2 linked regions of the Homo sapiens genome follow. The protein of the gene in region 1 purifies or fractionates together with the protein of each later gene. This does not show direct contact. Each region holds a gene or a part of one and is shown on either strand. Other genes may lie near its edges.

Region 1 (3,737 bases):
ACTCCCTAGTATCTGGAGGATAAGCTGTTGCCAGATGAAAGTGAGTAGTTTCCCCACTGTACCATGTGGAAGTGCCAGGCTGTCTTCATAGGAAGAAAGTTTGCAAACCCAGTGAGTCTTGCTCTTGTTGGAATTACTCAGACATACAGAAAACTGAGGGGATTAAATATTAATAGATTGGATATTTGAACATGAAATCCTTAAAACATAAAAAATGGGGAAGGAAAGGTCAAGTAATGAGCTGTAATTAGAAAACAGGATTAAATAAGAGCACTTCAAAAGTTACACCCTGTTCTCTTCATTCAGTAATTGCTTTTAATCTCAAAGTCAAAATTTCTTACTCTTCTATTCCTTTATGTTTGGAAATAAAATCCTATAGTTTTTCTTTAATGTTTATCTCTATAAATACAGATCCTCAAACAAATCCTAGGACTCTTGACTATTCTGTCCTTATGGCTACACCCAGACGATACCATCTGCCGACAAGGGCTCATATGAATGGAGAAACTCATTGCTTTGCCGAATTCAGCTTTTTAAATTGGATCCAATTAGATTTGTTTAAAATACATCTACATCTAAAATTCTGAGACTGCTTAGAAGTCTTAAGGTTTCTCCTAGTTAAGCATTTTCATGATTACAAAATCGCTTGGGAAATAATGGATACAACCTTATTTGGAATATTTCCCAGCAAATCAGGGACTATCTTAGGAAATTATGTCACCAATATATAGTAGCCTTTACTTTAAAAAAAATGCTAATTATCCCTTAGAGAAATTCTTAGGCTTCAAGTTTTCATTTGTTTATGGCTTTCATATTCTATGACCTTTTGCCAGTGTCATGATCTCTCAGTAAATCAGAAGTCACGAATTCCCAACAGTGAACCTGTTAAAGAGGTAGAGAGTCACTTTGAAGACTAGTCATTATAACAAACACTTCATTTATTACTTGTGTTTATTTACACTATTTACATATTGCACAATAGCTGGAATACTATTTTACATTTATAATACAAACGACCAACAGAATTAGCCACAGATTTACACTCCACTGTCTCTAAAACATGACCGAAATTTTAATTTTTCATGCCGTTCCAAATAATACTCTGAGAATTTAACAGTGAAAGTAATACAGAATATCAAATTATGTTATATGAAAATATACTTTAAGATTCTGCTTATGTTTCTAAAGAAATATTTTTTGCGATTTCACCTAATGAAGACAATGAAATATTCTGTGTTTTATAGCACTACACGTCAAATGTGGAGCATTCCTTTTGTGTTTTTTTTTTAAATAAGTGACAGATAACACTGTCAAGTACACTGATTTATCGAATATATATCTGCAAACTGTCAACAACATACAAAACTCAAAGGACTTATGGAAGAGTCTGTCTGCAAAAATAAATCTCTTGTCCATGAGGGGATGTGTATAAAGATAGTTCTGTTTCCCTGTTGGTTTCCAAGGCACTTCTCATGGCTCCTGGTGTGCTGCTCCTGTACGGTCTGCTCACTGCTGAAAACAAATACATTGCGTGTGATATGACTATCCACACTTCTTAATGTCAATTCCAGAAGACCTGTCACTTCAGTTAGGGGACACAACATGTTTATAAACATAGGCAGTCTCAGAGTGCATCTGTATTTCTCTGTGATCCAAAAAGTGTAGTCTATTGTATTTTTAAAAATACCTTCTTTCTGCAGTTGTTACATGGCTGCAATGCTAAAGCAATGAAAATCATCACAGATACATGTGGATGCTTTATTACAGCTTGAAGAGTGCTTAGTCTTACATGTGCTATCAGAATCCTCAGTAGTCTAGGCCACAGGGATTAACCTGGCAGTTCTGCAACCTCAGTGTTCACAGGGTTGGTAAAGCTAATAATCGAGATTAGACATTTGTTTCTAGCATTCTTTGTTGGAATATCTAAACCATTGGTATTCTATTTATTTTTAAAGAATGATAAACTTCAAGGTTACTAAGATTAGGCTGCATTTGGGAGAGTACACCATGTACTCACTACTCAAAACTCCATTTCTTTGACAATATTCCAGAGCTCAGGCTTCTGATTAACTGACCTGTAAGTCCGGACAATGAAGTGTATCTGTGACTGTTAGGGAGGGTTGGTGGGGACATTGTTCTCTTTGGCCTGAGGAGGTCTATTAATGAGCTTCAGAACGCGGCAAATGGATTTGCTCTGAGGTGAGGAGGGCAGAGCCCTTCCTGCTAAAGGCCTGCTTTTCTCAGGCTCTGGGCCTTTCTTTACAAAGACAAGGTCATGGTTTACGGTCTTGCCCTGCCATCCTTGTGTGTCAGGACAGAAGTGCATGTGGCAGGTTAACCAGCAGAACTGGGACTGCAGGGCCTGCCTGATGCCACACCGTCACACGAGTGTGGGCACCCTGGGACACCTGCCCTGCCCTCTGGTGTCTCACTGAGGTCTGCAAAGCACAGAGAAAGCCCGGACTGTATCTACACTGTGGTGACCAGCCACAGTAAGAGTTTGCTGTTGCTGTTTAACAATTTGTTAACACCAGTAACAATTTGCTGTTGCTGTTTAAAACTTTTGGAATTTGAAGAAATTATCTTTAAAAAATAGGAGTTATGAAATTATAGTTAACAGGGTATCAATATTTTAAACTTTACCTATCTCTTGGCCAAAATGAACCCAGTTACAGCTGTGACACCTGTGGCTGTCAAGCAGGTGGCCTTTTGGGGACAGAAGCTTGCGAGCCTGGGCCTTGTCTTGTTACCTTTACCTGCATCTCATCGTCAGTCAGGCTCTGATGTGGTTGTCTGGTGATGGGGAGAGTGATGTGAAGAGTGCTGGGGACTATCAAGGGGATTCTGCCACAGCTTTTCTGCAGGGCATCACTGTGGCGTTTGCAAAGCAGGACGTGCGCACGCAGAGACCCATACAGGAGCCTGAGTCCCACTGACATGACCACGTCCTTCAGTGTAACTGCACCTGCCTCCAGCAGCAGCCAGCGGAGGGGAGGCAGGGGTCGGCTAATGGGCATGTGGACGGAGTAGCTCTTCCAGTGGCTGAGACAGTGGGGAATTTGCTCTCCTCACTTGTAAGTAAGTGGAAAATTTCCAAGGATGTCCCTGGCCCATCTCTGGGAACACTGTGTTTAATTATAAAGAAATACCTAAAAAAAAAAAAAAATTCTCATCTCCCCTGGCATATCACCTTGGGTGACAGGAATGTACATCTGTTCACTGATTTAAACAGAAGAAAGTCTGTGTGACACATAGGCAGTGGATGAGCTGCTCGAGAGAATTGGAAAGAGCAGGGATGTGGGGAGACATTACTACACAGCACTTCCCAGCTTTGACTGACATTGACACCTTCACTATCTCCAAAGAAAAAGTGCAGTGAAACTGTGCAAAATGCAGTCTCAACCCGCCATTACCCACTGGCCTCCCTCCCCCAGTGCCATTCCTCTCATTAGCAGCAGTTTCTTCTACTGGGAAAGATGGAGTGGGGGATGCATGGGCAGGACCCGCCATGCCTCCTGCCGGTGTTGGGGTCATGCACACAACCCTTCTGCTGCTACCTAAATATTCATAAGCACTGCCTCTGCATAGAGAGCACATCTATATAGGAAAGAGCACTACCCTACCCTCATCCATTTTACATGAGAGAAACTAGAGTAACCACTATAAAAATACTCCCTTTTCATGAATGTGCTCCGGACAGCTATCAATGGACAGGAAGCCTGTCTTTCTTGTGCTGG
Region 2 (3,500 bases), about 130 Mb from region 1:
CCTCAGCCTCTCAAAGTGCTGGGATTACAGGCGTGAGCCACCTTGCCTGGCCAAAAGATTCTTAAAAAAACAATCTACTGATTCTCAAAGCCTAGTCTGAAAGGTAATTTCATTTGGACTATCTAATATTATTAAGGCAAAAAAAACACAACATTAAACAAAAGTTTAAATTTAAAAGTTTCCATGCCTCTGGCTGGCCATTTTCACTGCCTTTAAGCCTTTGTGACTCTTCCTCTGATGTCAGCTTTAAGTCTTGTTCTGTTGAAAAATCCATACATTCAGTTAAAATCAACCACTTAAAACAGTTAAAAACTATTGCCTTTTAAAAACAGATTTGAGACATTTCATTTTATTTCATAAATTGAGTGTTTCATCTTTTGTGAAATTGTCATTTAAGAAATAATTCTCAAAAACTTCAAAAACCCACTTGGGGAGATAGCAGATGTCACCAGATTGAAGACAAACAAACATGTCAAAAATTCCCTCACAAATTCATCCACCCAACATCCATGAACAAAACCACCAGAAACACAGCTTTAAAATACAGTAGAAACATATAAGGTGACACAGTGTACTGTTCTCCACTTCCTAATAGTACCTTATAAATGATTTCCAAAATCACTGCTGACACCTTTATTAGTGTACAACATCTTCCTAATATCTAAAATGTTTCTCTCCACTATTCTGACAAATTTATTTTCTTTTTTTCTTTTTTCTTTTTTTTTTTTTATGAGCTAGAGTCTTCCTCTGTCACCAGGCTGGAATGCAGTGGTGTGATCAGCTCACTGCAACCTCCGCGACCCTGGTTCAAGTGATTCTCCTGCTTCAGTCTCCTGAGTAACTGTGATTACAGGCAAGCACCACCACACCCAGCTGATTTTTGTATTTTTAGTAGAGATGGGGTTTCACCATTGGACAGGATGGTCTCGATCTCCTGACCTCGTGATTCCCTCTGAAAGTGCTGGGATTACAGGTGTGAGCCACCACACCTGGCCTTATTTTCATCTTTTGAAACAATGCTATATGAAGTTTTCCTTGATTCTGCATGTCTTTCCCCAAATAAACAGGTACCTCCTTCCTTGAGGCTGCCTTAGTACTTTACTGATTTTTCTACTGCATCTTGACCACCTAAACTGTACATTATTCCTCCACGTCTGTCCCCTCTGCTCCAAGACTGCAGGGGAGAGTCTTGCACATCATCTTTGTAAAAACAGTCTTTGTTTTACTCAGAAATATTTTATTGAGTCCTGCTAAATACATGCTAGGCATTAGGGTTTAAAAAGAATTAAAATAAAGCATGTCAGAGATGGCTTTTCTAGAACACATGCCCAAGCAGAGACTTAAATATTGAGACTAGCCAGATTAAAAGGTGTAGAGGGCAGGAAAGGGTGACGGCATGCCACGCAGCAGCAAGAGCGGGAGCGACTCCTGAAAGAGTGAAAGTATTTGCCTACAATAGAAGGATGAGTGAGTAGGGCACTGCCAGCAGTTCAGTAATGCCAGAGACAGGGCACACAGGGAAAAGGGCTAAAGATGGAGAGTGGGGCAGAAGTCAGATTATGAAAGCATTATGTGTAATTTTAAGATGCTTGAACATTAATGTTCAAAAGTGGTCCCGGGTCCTATCTGCATTTAGATATAGATCATTTCAATGCCAAAACCAATATTCCTAGTGAACAATTATTCATTAAGACAAGGTGACAGATAGCTCATGTGGACACAGCTGAGATGATACAATGTAGCAAATTCTAAACAATTCTCATGAACACTTGGAAAGTCAGTTCTATAATAAAGTCATACAAATTATAATAAATCAGTAAATATTTGGTTTCGGAAGATGCTTTGTAAAGTTATAATGCATATGAATACAATTAACAGTCGTGAATTCAGAGCTGTGAAAATAAATCAAAGAAACCACATTGTGTTTGAGTCAGCAATCTTTAGATTTCTATCCAGTCTTCCCATCCAGTCCATAAATTCTAAGTATAATCCTGGTACTCACTCTCAAGTTTACGTTAAATACTATCCCATTACAAAAAAACACTCTTTCTCTTACTTCTTTTCATTATGTCCTGCTAAAAAGATTCTGATTGGCTGCAGGCGGCAAGAGGGAAAAACACAAAGCACATTTTGCAGAAAATGATTATTTAGAAGTCAGAACTATGACATGAAGCCAAGCAGGGCACTCTAGGACCGAATTTGCTGTGCTGCCTTCATACGCTCCTTGCTCTTTCTTTTCTGGCAGCTGTGACTCACACAGGTCATGGAGAGTATCATTCCCTAAGAGGAACAACTCCGATATTCATCTTTATCTATTAAGTTCATCTGTCCCAATTCTGTGTTCTGTGGATGCTGACTTTCTGTCACGGACGATGATGCACATGGACATTTATTACTGACTTTCAGATTCTTGGATCTTTGACAAGTCTTATTACTTAGAGTCAAACTAGTAGGATGCGAGTTATAAATGCTGATTATCCAATTACCTACTCAAAATACCCTACACGAATATTCCATTAAACATGCATCGAAAAACATTAGTCATTCCTGCTGACCTGCTGCTCTTTGCTCTTCTGTATTCACCAGAAAATTTCCTACTCCTTCCTCATGTCCAGGTTAAATACTAGTGTGCAATCTGGAAACCTGTACATCATCTGAGATTTCTCTCTGTCCCCCAAGCCTTTCTCATTCAATTATCACTAAATCATATTGACTATACCTCTCTTCTGCCTCTGTTTTATATTCCCACTGCCACTGGGAACACAAACATTTACAAAATGACTTCTATTTAAAAGAAAACTGCCAACTATTAATGTTATTTCTTACAGGAAAAAAAATTAAGCAAAACAAGTGAAAAGGGCATAACGAAGGCCAACATAGTAAAATGAGTAACTGAGATTTCTAACGTTATTTATTTCACCATGGACGGGTGAAAACCTTGTAATACATTGATGCTACTCCAAGGATGTGTGACATGGAAACTATAGCTGACTACTGCAAAAGCTTCCTTTGTCTCCTGGTTTCTTTGCATGATTATCTCCCATCAATCCCAGGAAACTATAGGCCACAGGCCAAATCCAATCTGCATTATGGTTTTGTAAATAAAGTTTTATAGGAGCTCAGTCATGCCTGTTTGCTTACATATAATCATGGTGGCTTTCACACTACAACAGCAGACAACAGCACGGTTAAGTAGATATGACAGAGACCACATAGTCCAAAATATTTCCCACCTGGTCCTTTAAAGAAAAAGCTTGCTAACCCATTTTACACCATAACCAGAATGCCTTAATACTCAAATTTAATCTTGTGGCTCCCCTGCTCAAATTTCTCCAATGAGCCCCCTCCAGCACACATTGTTGGCTCCCTATCAATAGCCATTCCTCATTCTTTCTGGCAGAAAAAACATAAGTCTATTGGGATATTTAATATCCCAATCCCCCTCCTCAGCCTCAGAAAGAAATGTTTATTCTAAGCTAATCAGATATTTACCTTCCCAG

What was found.
Region 2: the proteins of ALKAL2 (region 1) and POTEE purify together in Homo sapiens (affinity purification with mass spectrometry; one large-scale study listed by BioGRID and IntAct). This does not show direct contact.

Annotation. Positions count from the first base shown.
Region 1 is NC_000002.12:278,641-282,377, forward strand, and holds the end of ALKAL2 (ALK and LTK ligand 2 precursor), read right to left. Parts: intron 1,513-3,737; coding exon 1,507-1,512; 3' UTR 918-1,506; downstream 1-917. UniProt on the Homo sapiens protein: Cytokine that acts as a physiological ligand for receptor tyrosine kinases LTK and ALK, leading to their activation. Cytokine-binding is sufficient to activate LTK. In contrast, ALKAL2-driven activation of ALK is coupled with heparin-binding to ALK.
Region 2 is NC_000002.12:131,247,536-131,251,035, reverse strand, and holds part of POTEE (POTE ankyrin domain family member E), read right to left. Parts: intron 259-3,500; coding exon 188-258; intron 1-187.